Regions from separate parts of the Homo sapiens genome. Here region 2 is linked to region 1. Evidence: fine-mapped QTL for protein levels in blood plasma. Region 1 holds a variant in brackets. A gene starts in the other region. All regions are shown on their forward strands. Region 1 overlaps ELL2 (elongation factor for RNA polymerase II 2). Region 2 holds the start of LCN2 (lipocalin 2).

What was found. A credible set is the group of variants that fine-mapping cannot tell apart. PIP is the posterior inclusion probability: the model's chance that the variant is causal. The UK Biobank Pharma Proteomics Project read protein levels with antibody pairs (Olink). The fine-mapping took linkage between variants from a reference panel, not from the people measured, so its PIPs are less certain.
Region 2: it holds the start of LCN2, and the variant in region 1 is the best candidate, but not a certain one, in a credible set for the plasma level of the LCN2 protein (UK Biobank, PIP 0.59).

Annotation. Positions count from the first base shown.
Region 1 is chr5:95,913,166-95,921,165 of GRCh38, forward strand. ELL2 (elongation factor for RNA polymerase II 2) reads right to left here. Exons shown (of 12, transcript NM_012081.6): 3 at 6,259-6,380; 4 at 606-769. Among named protein-coding and RNA genes, the nearest start is that of ELL2, 45 kb to the right of the region's middle. The variant C/CT (reference allele first, on the strand shown) is at 4,589.
Region 2 is chr9:128,145,187-128,153,186 of GRCh38, forward strand. It overlaps LCN2 (lipocalin 2), which reads left to right and starts at 4,267. Exons shown (of 7, transcript NM_005564.5): 1 at 4,267-4,477; 2 at 5,052-5,188; 3 at 6,452-6,531; 4 at 6,720-6,839; 5 at 6,997-7,098; 6 at 7,914-7,940. The coding sequence starts at 4,340. The coding sequence ends at 7,933. RefSeq lists an enhancer at 988-1,487 and a silencer at 5,617-5,666.

The DNA of each region.
Region 1 (8,000 bases):
TGGGGGTCGGATAGGGTCTTAATTAATGGATAGATGAGGATGAGGATCACAACTGAGGAACCAAAGAGACATCAGTCTAATGCTCTGTTGTAATGCTTTGCTATAAGCACATTTTATATTTTTGTAATGAAAAATCCTTGTTGTACAAAGATGCTCTGAAAATGTAAGCAAAATCTACAACAATGAGATTATCAACCCATAAATTCTACTAATAGATTTTACTATAAAAATAGCCCTACAAAAAGGCAAAACAAGAACCATAGTATCCATCACTGAAATTACATCATCTAGTGACAAAGAAAACACAACGGTACCACGATTGCAACTTCACGCAGTAATGTGACCAGATCCCAGTACTATAAAATAATAGTAAGTAGCCAACGAAGATTCAGGATTTAGGAAAGTCATAGAACTTTAAAATATGCTCTTCAATTTACTGGCAGTCTGAAGAGAACAAATAACTTTGTTTTTCTCACCATGTTATCCAAAATGTTCTGAAAACTAGTTTCTGTGTTTTCATTAAGTTAATATTACTGGTATTTACCTATGGTGATCTTGAATTACTCCAATCAATCAGCAAGAGGAAGAAAGATATCTATACAAACCTACATATGGTCCACCGGGTTTGATAACTTTTGTGCTTCGGTTGCGGGATTCCTCCTCTGCCTGGGTCATTCTTTCTCGTGTCATCTGATACGAGTCGTTTGTTGCACACACTGTAATTTTATCTTGTATAAATCCCAGGCAATTGAGCTGGGAGGCTCCAGAGCTGTCAAGTAAGTCAGTGGCTTTGTTAGACATGACCTTCATTTTGTACAATAAAGGCAAACAAGAATTATATAATCCTAAAATCAGCAGCCCAACTAAGTTTGCAATCCTAAAATAACTAATATTAATTTTTAAATGTAAATGCTATTTAAAATATCTAAGATCCTTCTCTTCACTTTTTTTCATATTCTTTATATAATGGATGAAGTGAGCTCTCAGAGACCAAATCCATAAAATTTTGAAAAAGAAAAAAAATCAGTATTTAGAGTGAGACCAGAGTTCTGATGGGCATTGTAGTTGTTTTATTTAACTGTTAACTATTTTAAAGAATTATCTAACACTGATATGAGGAAAGTTAAAAAGTTTAGTTTTAGTAAAACCACAATATACATGGTCTGGACTGACTAGTTGAAACGGACTCACCACACATTCTTTTTTATTTTAAATAATATATTAATTTTAAGGCTAACATACTGACAAAAATTAAAGCTTACTTTAATATTATTAGTCCAAAAAGTTCCTAAAAATTTGCAGAATTTGTATTTACTTTGTTAAATCTCTATATAAGATGACCTACTTATTAGCAAATGTTGAAGAAAACACAGGGCAAATGATTTTTATAGCAATTTTTTTTTAAAGGCCAGGCACGGTGGCTCATCCCTGTAATCCCAACACTTTGGGAGGCCAAGGCAGGTGGATTGCTTGAGTTCAGGAGTTTGAGACCAGCCTGGGCAACATGGAGAAACCCCATCTCTACAAAAATTAGCTGGGCATGGTGGCGTGTGCCTGAAGTTCCAGCTAGTCAGGAGACTGAAGTGGGAGGGTCTCTTGAGCCCAGGATGTGAAGGTTGCAGTAAGCTGAGATGGCGCCACTGCACTCCAGCCTGGGCAACAGAATGAGACCCCATCTCAAAAAAACAAAACAGAACAAAACACTTTTTATTGAAATAATCATGAATATTAACATGGACCTAGAAGATGGCTCTGTTTCAAAGTAACATGTTAATATTAGGGGGATCATGGTCACAGTCATAACTGGTATTTTATAAAGAAATTGCTATGGCCTGAAAACAAACTGGAATATAAAACTAATGAAAGTGACACTACAGCTCTGATCATCTATATCCAAACTTAATTAGAAGTAACTTTGTTATAATACAAAGAAATAAAGGTTGATAATTTTTTTTTGAGATGGAGTCTCGCTCTGTTGCCAGGCTGGAGTGCAGTGGTGCAATCTTGGCTCACTGCAAGCTCTGCCTCCCGGGTTCAAGTGATTCTCCTGCCTCAGCCTCCCAAGTAGCTGGGACTACAGGCACATGCCACCATGCCCAGCTAATTTTTGTATTTTTAGTAGAGACAGGGTTTCACCATGTTGGCCAGGATGGTCTTGATCTCTTGACCTCATGAACACTCGCCTTGGCCTCCCAAAGTGCTGGGATTACAGGCGTGAGCCACCGCACCTGGCTGATAAAATCTTTATAAATTGCTAATAACTGTCTTTACAAATGCTATTTAAGAAAAACACACACACAAAAACCAGTTAATTCATCTCATAAATATTTATTGGGCAGGGACTGCATGCCTAGCAATGTGTGAAGCAGAGAGGTTGTGACAAGAACTAACAGTTGTGGTCCCTCTTTCAAGGAACTAATGGGTGACAAGGATGGACAAACTGGAAATCATAACACAGTGTGACAAATTCCAGGGAGCAGAGGACTCCCAGAAAGGTAATCTCACCTGGACTTCCCAGAGGAGGTGATGCCTGAGGTGATCTAGAAAGATGACTGGGCAAGGGGGAAGAAGAATGAAAGTGTTCAGGGAGGACAACTAATCTGTGCAGGGCCAGGAAGAGCAAAAAGAAGGTTTTCAAATTGTCCAAAGAAAGTTGGGAAGGACAATTACAGCTGAAGCTGAAGAGGGAATGAGAAATACATCACAAAGGGCTCTGAGGGTCATGTGTTACAGGTTTTGGACCTTATCCAAAGGATAACGAGAGGCTGAAATCAGGGGAGAGAAAATAACTCATTTGTATTGCAGAAAGCTCAATCTGGATGGAGGATAGATTGAGAGGAAGGGGGACACCAGAAGGAAAGAAAAGAGGCCACTTAGGATGCTACTGAAGGATTACAGGCAAGCAGTGATGGCATGAACCAGAGTAGGGCAGTGAGAGTGTAGAATAGTACACAGCTTCCAGAGATAGTGAGGAAGTGGAACTGACAAAACGTGGTCAGTAGTTAGCCACACTCAGAGAGAGGTGGGGGAAAAAAGTTAAAGATCATGCCCAGGTCACGAGGTATATGGAAGCTGCTATGTACTGAAACACTGAACACAAGATGAAGGACAGGTTGGGAGACAGGACTGGGACAAAGAACATAAGTTCAGTGTTGGAGATGGTGACCTTGAAGGAATGAGGAGAGAAGGGGTCTCAGGAGGGAACCAACTGTGAAGAACACTAGTATTTAAGCAAAAGGAAGAAAAGAAGACCACATGAGACTGAAAAGCCACAGCTACAGAGGTAGGAAGGAAACCAGAAGAGTACTGTGTAATGTAAGCCACTGGAACAGACGCTTCAAGCAGGAGAGAGTGGTCAACAGTGTGCAACACTGGCAACAAGTCCAGAATAATAAGGAACCAATAACACATCCACTGGATTTTGGGGGCAGGGAGGTCACAGCTCCCTTGGGGAAGCAGTTTCAGTGGAATGGTGGGCACTGAAGCCAGACTTTGGGTTGAGAAGTGAATGTAAGAGAGGTTGTTTTTGTTTTTTATTTTCTTTTTTAATAAGACAGACTTGAGCATGTTTGCATGCCAAAGGAAAAAAAAAAAACCCACTGACAGAGGAATGCTGAGAGAGGGGAAGGTAATCCTCAGAGGAAGTGGGAGAGAGGGGGGAGAGTGGGAGAAAATGACTGCAATAGAGTGAAGGTCTGGTGGCAGAAAGTTTGTATTTCAACATCTCTTCCTATTATTTACTAAGTAATTTACATAGTGAGAATAAGCTGAACATACTGCCCCTCATGCGAAGTCAGAAAACAGATCTTTATGCAAAACAAACGGAGCTAAACGCTGTAGGCAAGAAGGTACTCTCTAGAATTCTTCACTCATCCCTTCTCAACCGAGTTACCCTGAAAGTTTAAATATTTTAGACAAATGTATATAAATGCTCCCTTAGTCTTTCTCTAGCCTAGCTCACCATTTCCTTCGCTTAAGTGTGCATTATTATACACTATAGGTCCTAGACTATATATTTTTCACTAAGTCTGAAAATGGGTAGACTTAAGGAATTTTTGAAAGGCAATTTTGACTGTGACATTGATTTCATTTTATATATGAGAAAAGTGAGAATCAAGGAAGTTTAAAAATATAGATAAGAAGACTAGTTAATTTGTATTTGTTGAACATTTATTTACTGAGCATCTGTTTTTACCCTTTTATCTCCAGGTTGAGTCAATAAGCATGTATTTTGAGCTCAGTCAGCACTGTGAAATTAGAAAAAGGGCATAAGAAAGCCTCTGACCTTGAAGAGCATGCACTGTGGTCAGAGAGAAAAGATCCATAAGGAAAATGGAAATTAAATTGAATGGAAAAGGTGAAGCCAGATTATGGACAGGTCAGCTTGCCAGGCTGTGAAGTGAAAGCCTGAGAACAAAAGCTAGTGCTTTTGTTTTCCTAGTGGCAGACTTCAATTTATACCCTTACTACCTCATTTTATAAGGCACCTTGGATTATACAGAGGGGATACATTTGCCCCAATATTTTCACAATAAGTGTTTCTATTCTCTTACTGCATCATACATAGTTTTGTAAGTGACCTTAAATC[C/CT]TTTCCAAACAAGGAAGGTAGAAATAACCACACAGGGTATTTATAATGTAAGAGTAAAGCCATATTACTTACAATGATATGAATGCTTTTGAAGAGAGGATTAAGCTCCTTAATAAAATTCCTAAGGGGACATTGTTCAATTTGATATCAAAATGTGCTCACTATAATAAAACAACAATCTAGAGACAAGCACCACAATTAAAAATTAGTGTACCATGTTGTGTGTAAAGAATACTGGGGTGGGAATTAGAAGAACTCAGTTCTCATTTAGCCTAGCCACTAACTAACCAGCTACATAACTCTGGATAAATCACCTGTGAAATGAAGGGATTGACTCACACAATCACTAAGGACCCTAATACTTGGTGATTCTATAATCTATCATAGTGCTGATCAATAGAACATTTTGCAAGAGTGAAAATGTTATATAACTGTGCTGTCTACTATGATAGTAACAGGTAGCTACTGAGACCACAAAATGTGGTTAGTGTGAATGTGCAATGATGTTTTAAATTTTATTTAATTTTTTATCAGTTGAAATGTAAATAGCCAATGTGGCCAGTGGCCATCACAGTGGACAGCACAGAAAAGTCTATATAATCTACAATATAGCAATTTATGCCAAAACATTTAAGTTTGAAGGTGGGTAATTTTCAGAAAGCAACATGAATATATCCTTGGGGAAAATGACAGATTAAATAACAAAAAGTTACGTAGACACCTTAAATGGGAGGATAAAGGTAAAACTCTGTCAGTGTCTTATTTTGTATCTCTGCCTCCTGTACCTGCTGGAAACACAACTTTGCTTCTTCTTTTCCCCCACATTGAGCAAGTACTTACATAGTTTCAAGTACTGCACAGATAAGTCACAGAGATACGCTGGTCTAGGGTACTTGGGGCTAATGTCAAAGCCTTACATGAGGAGGAAATGAGAGAGACCCTAACCTCCCTTGTCTATATCCAGGGGCAGAACAAACTCCTGCTCAAGGGCCTATTCTTTAATCAGAAACAACCAAAGCAATGAAGAGTGAAACAAGTGGCTTATTGTTTACAGAGGATCTAAGTAGATAAGCGTCCCATGGTACCCTAGGGTGTGGGTGTGTATATTCTTGTCTTCCTCCTCCTTTTTTTTTTTTTCTTTTTTTTTAAGAAGAAGGAGAGACTGCTTTACTGGGTTAATTTCTAGTTTCCATGCAGCTGTAGAATAAAGATGTTTAAAAATCTACCTTCTACCTTAGAACATGGCTTGAACAGGGAAGAAGGAAGAAAGCATGCAAGATGGATATTTTTAACTTCTTTACCCTGGAGTATGAGCCTCAAATATGCTATAAGATTCTTGCTTAAATTCAATGAATTAAATATTTCTAAAAAAAATCCTCAAATTGCCTTTAGTTTTCAAAAACTGCATTTTTATAGGTTAAAAAATATCTTCTGTACCTTAAAAGCCCCATTAGACCAAAAATCTTTGAACTGTTGTGATTATATCCCCATTACAAATGAAATTTCTATTACACAGTAGGTGCTTAATATTTTTCAGATAAATAAATGAGCTCTGTAATTCAATTTAATACACGTTTATGGATGAATATTATGTATTGTATTGTTTAATTTTCTAAAACCCTCTTAAATAAAAAATTTTTCCCCTTCAGTGTACCTTGAAAAGTACTTACCTGGAGAATGTTTGCTGGATGCAGTCAAAGCTGCCCTGAGGGTTGTCTTTGCCCACATTTGACAAATAAAAGTTAAAGTTATGAACTTCATTGAGGGGATCATTTTTGGGAATTTTGACAAGCTAAAATGAGGGGAAAAGAGAGAAACGCCTCAAATTATAAATTTGCCATAGAAAAGTCTTAAGACTGACTTACTGGTTTTTCTAGTGAAAATCATTTTAGACCTAAGCCCTTTTGATATATACATCCTCGCAGCATTTAAATGACCAAACAATTCAAGGAATCTGGCAAACATGCCTATAACTTACCAGATTCTTATTTCCATTTTCTACCTTTAAGTGTCAGTAATCACTTCTGCTCAATAGTTTCTATTAGTTTATAAGAGGAACCCTTTTCATTTCAAAGTAGCAAATGGTTACAGTTCTTATGAAAGAGTTATTAGTGAATTTGTAAAAAGCTCTTCCTCTTTTGAGCAATACAAGTTTTGTCTTTGGCTTACATGACCCCCTTCTAAATAGCTTCTATATATTGAAGCAATCTCTGAGATAAGAGTCCATATCCGAATCTTTGGCTCTTATAATAAAAAAACACATTTCATTTTAATTCTTGCTTCTTAGAGCAGTATTTTTGAACTTCTTAGAGTAACAGCATAAGGTTAATGCCATAATTGCATTCACAGGTAAAAACTGCTGTCCTAAGATGCCATTATACATCCTCATGTTTACAGAAACAGGGTCTGCAGCCTACAGAGATGATTCTGTAGGTCACTCCTAGGCTAAGCCCCAGGAAACACTGTGGAACAGGAAGATGTATTTTCTTTGTTGTTGTTGTTATTTTTATTTTTAAATTTTTAATATTTATTTATTTATTTATTTATTTATTTATTTATTTATTTATTTATTTTTGAGACGGAGTCTCGCTCTGTTGCCCAGGCTGGACTGCAGTGGCGCGATCTTGGCTCACTGCAACCTCCACCTCCCCGGTTCAAGCAATTCTCTGCCTCAGCCTCCTGAGTAGCTGGGATTATAGGTGCCCGCCACTACGCCCAGCTAATTTTTTTGTATTTTTAGTAGAGACGGGGTTTCACCACAGGCAGATGTATTTTCTACACTCTTGTTCAAGGGCTGGCTTCCCTACTAGATGAGAAGTCCCAGGAGCAAAGGGACAGAGTTGTTAAAGACCACTGAGGTCCTGCATTGGCCACATTGCCTGATATGTAGTAGGGGCTCAAAAAAGGTGTGTGCAATTGGAATCTTCTGTCCTTCAACTGCTCCACTCTTCCTAGTGTCTGAAACCTTTCCTCCCTTGGGTCTGCATGGTGTTAGGTGATAATTAAAAAAAAGGATTAGTTGGCAAGAATGTAAAATATGACTTAACCGAACTTCAGCTCCCAAACATACAGTCTTAGTAATTTAGCAGACAAGTAGGGAAGGGAAAAGTGTTTTATAATCCTCATTCTCCAAAAAATCTGTCCTTTCCATTATAAGATGAAGACAGCACTAACTTGCTGCTTAGCGTGTATGCACTCACACTCATGAATGGGCACAGGCATGGGCAAAGGCATGTATGATTCCTGCCTTTGCTCTGCCCTGCAAGATAACCTGCAACCACTGAATTGCTCAATCTAAAAGTCTCCCAAACCTTGACCTATAGGAAAGAACTGCAGTCACCAATTCCTGCCTTCCCTTCCTCCCAACCCTGGAAAAAGGTAAAAAGAAAAAAAGGTAAGAAGGGAGACAATT
Region 2 (8,000 bases), not on the chromosome of region 1:
GCCCTCTTGCCCGCATAGGAGTCCAGGCTCTGGAGTAAAAGGCAGAGCACCCATCTAAGCAGCATGCCTGGGCCAGGCACCAAGGGATGGAACCAGCAAGGGCCCTGGGCCTAGACCTCAAGCAGCAGGGCCCGCTTCCCCCTGTCTGGTGGACCCCAGGGGTTCACCAGAGGGAGGAATCCAGTGGGTGTACTTGGGGGAGGGTTGGGAGGGGATTTTCACAGGCGGGCAGGGTCCCTGTCAGGTAGAAGGGGCAGGAGGACCTCAAGGCCCCTTGGCGAGCCTTGGCATGAGAGAGGATGGGGGTTGGAAAACTGTTTCTGGAAACAGGAGACTCAGCCCAAGACCCTGGCAGGGCAAGCTCCTCACACTAAACAGCCCCTCCCGTTCCTGGGTGTTTGAGAGTCGGGTGCCCAGCCCGGACCTGCCGTGACCAAGGAGAGCTGATCTGCAGACACCAAGACTTCCTGCATCTGTGACTGGGCCTCCTGGGGGCATCTTGACTGTAGACTCCTTCCAGGTGTGGTACCTGGCTCCTAGAAGCCTAGCCAGTCACCTCCTGCCCAGCCTTCAAACACGTCAGAGGGTTAACCATTCATGGCCACGCTGAACACTACTCACAAGATCCGGAAACCAGAATGGGGAGTCAGACTGGATTCCTGAGATGTAAGGACCGCCAGGAAGCATCTTGCTGCCTTCATGCATGGATGAGACCTGGGCCTCTCCATGGGAGGACAGGCTGCTGCAGTCTCCAGGGAGCACCCACTCTTGGGCGTGGAGAGTGGGGACAGCTGCCTGCCAGAGACTGCGAGGGGAGGTCGGGAGCAGCCGGAGTACTTCTGGTCTCTGGCCACGGAAAACCCAGGCAGGGACCTGTCTTTAAGCTCCTGCTGTTGCTAAGCCGACCTGCACAGCAGGACTTGGGAGCCCAGCCCAGCTCCTCTCAGGAGGGGCTTGGCCCCATTGCTTCTGTGTGGCTCGTTGAGGGCTCACTAGAGGCACCTGCAGCTCCTTGAGAGAAAGCAGGCCCAGTCCAGGGGCCACGGTGGAAACCATAGGAGGGGCCGAGGGGAGGCAGGTGGGTGCCTGTCATGCCATGCACAGTGCCACACGTGTCGTGGAGATTGTCCCAAGAGCCCCGGGGTCCAGGGACTCCCCCAAGCGCTGAGCAGTGTGAACACTTGTGTACCCTCATTGGCTAGGGCCCAATGAATGGGGCCCAGTGGAAAGGGGGTGGGTGAGGAATGGGGCCCCAGTGTCCTGTTGACCCTGGAGCCCTTGGAGTCGGTCAAGTCTGAATGGGAGGTCTACACCACAGTCCTTACCCAACCTTCCTAGTGCTGAGTCCTGAAGCTTGTGTGGTGGGTCTATGTAGAGCTGACCCCCTCCCTGCAGCCCTGCTAGACTCTGAAGAGAGCCAAGGCCAGTGGGTAGGAGACAGGTCTGGAGCTGGTGCAGAGAGAGGAATGAGCCCTGCATGGGTTTGATCAGAAACTCAGCCTTGTGTAGGGACACCCTGGGGCCCGGTGCTGTCCATGCATGACCTCACAGAAGCGCAGAGCTGCCCTCTCTACAGAGGAGCGCCTGATTTGTGTGGGAGCTAGGCAGAGATCTGCATGCATGCGGAGGAGCCAGGCTTCAAGCCAGCCTGGGGGACCCCCAAGCGGGACTATCTCCCCTTCTGCACCTGGCTCTGGTGTCTTCCCACTGTGGACCCAGTGCCCTGCTCACCCACCACATTCATACCCTGGAGTCCTGGGTCCTCAGAGATCCATGACACTGCCTCACCCCCAACTTCAAATTCTCTGGGGCTCCACCCGCTGGTCTCAGCTACGTGAAGCAGTCACCGTAGACTAGAGGGTACTTTTTAGATTTAGGTCACTCTATCATCCAGGCTGGAGTGCAGTGGCACAATCATAGCTCACTGCAGCCTCGGCTTCCTGGGCCCAAGTGATCCTCCCACCTCAGCCTCCCCGAGGATACGTGGTTTTTTTTTTCTTTTTTCAGACAGGGTCTCACTCTGTCTCCCAGGCTGGAGTGCAGTGGTGCGATCTTGGCTCACTGCAGCCTCCGCCTCCCGGGTTCAAGCCATTCTCCTGCCTCAGCCTCCTGAGTAGTTGGGATCATAGGCATGCATCACCCCACCTGGCTAATTTTTGTATTTTTAGTAGAGACGGGGTTTTGCCATATTGGCCAGGCTAGTCCCTGAGGATACATTTTTTTTTTCCCCGAGATGGAGTCTCCCTCTGTCGCCCAGGCTGGAGTGCAATGGCGCAACCTTGGCTCACTGCAACCTCCGCCTCCCAGGTTCAAGCAATTCTTCTGCCTCAGCTTCCCGAGTAGTTGGGATTACAGGCATGCGCCACCATGCCCAACTAATCTTTGTATTTTTACTAGAGACAGGGTTTCACCATGTTGGTCAGGCTGGTCTTGAACACCTGACCTCAGGTTATCCACCCGCCTCAGTCTCCCAAAGTGCTGGAGTTACAGGCGAGAGCCACTGCGCCCAGCCGAGGATACCTTTTTTTTTTTTTTTTTAAGACAGAATATCGCTCTGTTCCAGGCTAAAGTGCAAAGGCGTGATCTCGGCTCACTGCAACCTCCGCCTCCCAGGTTCAAGCTGTTCTTCTGCCTCAGCCTCCCGAGTAGCTGGGATTACAGGCGCCTGCCACCATGCCCTGCTAATTTTTGTATTTTTAGTAGAGATGGGGTTTCACCGTGTTGGCCAGACTGGTCTCGAACTCCTGACCTCGTGATCCACCCGCCTCAGCCTCCCAAATGCTGGGATTACAGATGTGAGCCACCGCACCCGGCCTGGCAGAGGATACTTTTTAAGGTCAAAGACAGTAGCAGAGGTGGAGTTCCTGGGAACAGGGTCATGAGGGGAAGAGGGGGTTCGGAGGGAGCGAGTAGCCACTGGCTACCTCTAGAAAGGGAAGGCTTTGGTGCAACATCGTTCCCCTGCAGTTTTACTCATCTTTGCTTCCTGCCCTTTCATCATCCAATCGGGCAGGCAGGACAGGGCCTGAGGGGGCAGGGATCCAGTGGGTGCCTCTCTAGACTAACCCCAGCTCAGGACTCCCAGAGCCCCTTCCCTGAGGCCCTGCTGCCCCCAAGCCCAGATTGGGGATCCCAAGCAGCACGTAGGCAGAGCCAGTGAGGTCCCCGTTAGTCCCATTGAAAGCTCTAAAACCAGCGAACCCTCAGTCCAGCCTCAGGTCAGGCATCCAGGACGGCCTCAGCCCTCATGGGTGAGCCATCTCTGCGGACACTGCACAGGGCCTACGATCCATCGCTGCCTCCCGAGGATGCCAGCCAGGCCCCCGTTGAGATAACTGCTTCCCTGCTGGACAAGGCTGGGACCAGCCATCTCGGTGACAGTTCCAGAACCCCTGGCCTGGGCTGCTGGGTTCAATGGAAAAAGGCTGTGACTAGAGTCAGGGGGATGGTCTCAGTGACCTCAAGGATAAGGCCAGATCCTTGCACTGTCAGTGACCCAAAGCAACAGGTGTCCAGAGCAGCAGTGTGGCGCCTTCACGCCCCCACACATCAGCCCAACTCACCCAGGACAGGGACTGTAGCCTCAGCACTCAACCCATGTGCCCTGTGTGGGGTCTCTTCCCACTGCACTCACAGGAGAGGAAGGGTCCCTCAGGGGTCCACTGGGGTCCCCTCCTGCAAATGGGGCAAGGAGAGGGGCAAGGGGCTGTCTCAAGGCCCCTGGAGCACATGCAGGTCCTGGACTGGGGCTCCTGGGAGGGCCATGATTCTGGGCTCCATGAGTTCAGAGCAGACGCCTTGTTTTTCCTTGTCCACTGTCAGCCACCCCACCCTTCCCTGACCCTTAAAAGAACCAGGAAACAGCACATGATCTGTTGGAAGGAGGCATTCATTCTTTCCTTTCTGTGGGTGTGGGGAGGGGACCACAGGGCACATACCCCACCCTGGGATCCAGCTGAGCAGGGGGGTCAGAGATGACAGCTCTTCCGGCTCACAGGCCACCGGCCCACATACAGGGCAATCAGAAGAAAGAAACAGCACAAGGAAGGCACAGAGGGAGTCGTTGTCCCTGCCAGAGGTGCAGCACTCCGGGAATGTCCCTCACTCTCCCCGTCCCTCTGTCTTGCCCAATCCTGACCAGGTGCAGAAATCTTGCCAAGTGTTTCCGCAGGAGTTGCTGGCAATTGCCTCACATTCCTGGCCTTGGCAAAGAATGAATCAACCCACCCTAGATCCCATAAATAGGGCCACCCAGGTGAGCCTCTCACTCGCCACCTCCTCTTCCACCCCTGCCAGGCCCAGCAGCCACCACAGCGCCTGCTTCCTCGGCCCTGAAATCATGCCCCTAGGTCTCCTGTGGCTGGGCCTAGCCCTGTTGGGGGCTCTGCATGCCCAGGCCCAGGACTCCACCTCAGACCTGATCCCAGCCCCACCTCTGAGCAAGGTCCCTCTGCAGCAGAACTTCCAGGACAACCAAGTAAGGGGCCAAGAGGGGCACCTGCAGGCAGGGCCTGGGGAAGAGTGGGAGCAGAGGGGAGGAGAGGTGAAGAGACTCAGGAAGAGCGTTGGGCAGGACTCTAGGAGTCCAGGGTCCAGGTTTCAGCTCACTCTGTGCCACCAGGGTCCCCTGGTGGAAACCATGCCCCTTCCCCCCATCCCCACCCCCTCTCAGCCTGAACAGACTCCCCCAGGTCCACATCCCCTCTCCCATAACCCCCATTGTCCAAAGAAGGTGGGAGCACTTTTAGTCCCCCTGCACAGATGAGGAAACTGAGGCTCAGGAAGGCCCACCAGCCACATGCCTCCTCCAGTGAGGAGGTCACCCTCCTCCCTGCCAGACTCAGAACCGCCTCTTCCCCCAGGACTCCCTTCTGGACTGATGGCCTCCTGCTCCTGCCCCTTCACCAGTGCAGGCCCAGCCTGGGCCCTGCTGCCCAGCTAGAGGGGCTCATGGTTCCAAGCTGGGCGGCCCAGAGGTGCCACAGGGACAGAGCTGGAGGGGTGGCTCCTAGGGCCATTCCTGGGTTGTGCCTCTTATCAGTCCCTTGCAGTTCCAGGGGAAGTGGTATGTGGTAGGCCTGGCAGGGAATGCAATTCTCAGAGAAGACAAAGACCCGCAAAAGATGTATGCCACCATCTATGAGCTGAAAGAAGACAAGAGCTACAATGTCACCTCCGTCCTGTTTAGGTGAGGGCCGACATCTCCTGGGGGTGTGAGAGTCAGACTGACGTCACAGGCAAGGGATGGCCAAAGCTGAGGGATCCTGTCGTTCACCTCGCTGTTCTGCCCGGAATTCATCTGTGTTCATCCTTCCTCTGTTCCTTAGAGCAACGTTTATAGCACATTTCCATGCAGACACACAGACAGTGGTGGGGATGGACATGCACAGTCGTTAGAAAACAAGACGGAGAGAGGAGGGGTGCCTGGGAGCGGGAGGAGGGGACACTGGATCCAGCCTGGAACCCCACCCAGTGCCTTCATGGAAGGCTTCCAGGGAGGTGGCCTTAAAAGAGCCAACCTGCTTCAAAAGGAAATGTGGGGTGTTCCCGGCAGGGGCTGGAGTCAGAGAGAGCCCCCCCTTCAGGAAGGAGCAAGCCATCGCAGGGTCACCCTGAGCAGAGCTGCTGAGCAGCCTGGAGGGGCAGGTGGCCACGCTAGCACCTAGCACGGTCCTCAGGCCCCGCCCCAGCGGATCTGCTGCGGAGTGGCTTAGAGCAGGGCTCTTGGGCCGCAGGGTGGGGAGACTTGGTGGGGTGCAGCCTAGGGGGTCGGGAGACCAGCGAAAGTGAAGCGGGGCCGTCACAGGTGTGAGAGAACAGGCGCAGGGTGAAGAGGCAGGGAGCCAGGGATCAGCCGCCCCCAGTGGGTTTCTGACTCTGGCAGCTGAGTGGATTGGGATTGGGGCATTTGTGGAGCAAGGAGCAGAATACAGACAGGTTGGGGAGCTCAGCCCTGGGGTGCCAGGGGATGGGAAGTGGGAGGACTCAAGGATGGGGTCAGGTTTGACCCGAGAGCTAGGGGAACGGCTGGCATGGAGCAGACTGGAAGTACCGAGGTGGATCCCCGGGAGAGGGTATAGGAAGGGAAGCAGCAAGCTGAGTGCAGGGGAGAAATGCAGGGTTTCTGTGTGTTGGGTGGCGGGGGGGGTGAAAGCCACCCAGGGAGGCAGCCAAAGGAAAGAAGGACATCGGGTGCTGGAGGGTCTGAGTGGGGTCCAGGGGCCCCAGGCAGGCCAGGAGGGACAGCCTGGTGTCAGCTCAGGGAGAAGGCCCAGGCCCATCTCGGCTGGGTGGGGTAGGGCCCCTCCAGGTAGTGGGGGATGAGCTGTCACGGGTTGGGCCGGACTGAGAGCAACAGAACCCTGCTGCTGCCCTGGCCCCACCTTGTCCAGCACAGGAGGCCCAAGCCTGGGTTGTCTCCCCTCTCACCCACCCATCTCTCCCTCCCAAGGAAAAAGAAGTGTGACTACTGGATCAGGACTTTTGTTCCAGGTTGCCAGCCCGGCGAGTTCACGCTGGGCAACATTAAGAGTGAGTCTTGAGTGAGGTGGGGCACTGAGTTGGGGCTCCGGGGAGCTGGGTAGGGGCACAGACCTTCCTGCCCCTCCACACAGATGTGTTGTATGGGGAGAAGCCCACGTTGATGGGCTGGGGAGGGAGGGGACAGCTCCCTCCTCCCATCCAGGGCAGGGCTGACCCCTCACCGTCCACGCCTGCAGGTTACCCTGGATTAACGAGTTACCTCGTCCGAGTGGTGAGCACCAACTACAACCAGCATGCTATGGTGTTCTTCAAGAAAGTTTCTCAAAACAGGGAGTACTTCAAGATCACCCTCTACGGTGGGTCCTCTCCCATCCCCTCGGGGACTGGCTCCTGATCACACTTAGTGGGAGGGGAGGCCGGTCCCCCATGAGGAAGGGATCTGAGGCCTCATCTACTCATTCAACGATATTTATGTGGTGTCTGCCAGCCACTCACTGGCCATCTTGGTCACAGGGAGAACCAAGGAGCTGACTTCGGAACTAAAGGAGAACTTCATCCGCTTCTCCAAATCTCTGGGCCTCCCTGAAAACCACATCGTCTTCCCTGTCCCAATCGGTAATGGCCAGTCTGGATGAGGGGACGGGGACATGGGGACTGTTCAGGCAGGATGCTTCCCTACCAGGGATCAGGGAGAGGAGGGACTCCGTCCTCAGCTTCAGTCACTGGAGCAGTGGATGGTCCAGGAGCTCCTTGGAAGCCACTCTGGGCCCAGGAAGACTGTGCCCCACCCCAGGGTCTATGGGACTCCCAGGGACCCAGGCCGCAAGTGCTCTTTCCTGGCAGTTTAGCCCGGGTCTGCCCAGACAAGGATTTCAGGCCCAGGCCTGAGTATCCATTTCTCAGTCTCACTGGCCTGACACCTCTGGCCACCCTCCCAGGCCCCCTTGTTCTGGGCCATCTCCCCCGACCCTCCCAGGCCTCGTCACCCTGGGTTTTGCTGTCCTGGCTGTCCTCTCTCCCCTGGGGACTTGCTCACCACTGACTTGGGAGCTGTCCTTGACTCCAGGGAGCCTGGCTTGGGCAGGAGGCTCCAGCCAGGCCATTCAGAGAGCCACTGGCCTCCCCCAGGCTGAGAGACTGCCTGGACTGGTAAACAGGCAGGAGACCTGGGTGCCCGAGGAGCCTGGGAGCTGGGCCTCACTCAGGGCAGCCCCTCCCCAGGCCTTTCTCCCACATCCCCTGCCCTGCCATCCACCCCTCTGTTGCCCCATCTCTGAAAGGAACCCCCATATCTTCTGCAGCTGGGCCAGGTGGGGCAGGGGCTGCCCAGGGGCAGTGCAGAGGACCTGGCAGTCAGGGATCACACACACACACTCATACACGCACACACACACACAGCTGCCTGTTCTGACGGACTTTCTCCCTAACAGACCAGTGTATCGACGGCTGAGTGCACAGTGAGTGTGGCTGGGCGGCTGCGAGGGGGCTTGTGGGAGGCCAGGGTGCAGTGGGCTGGG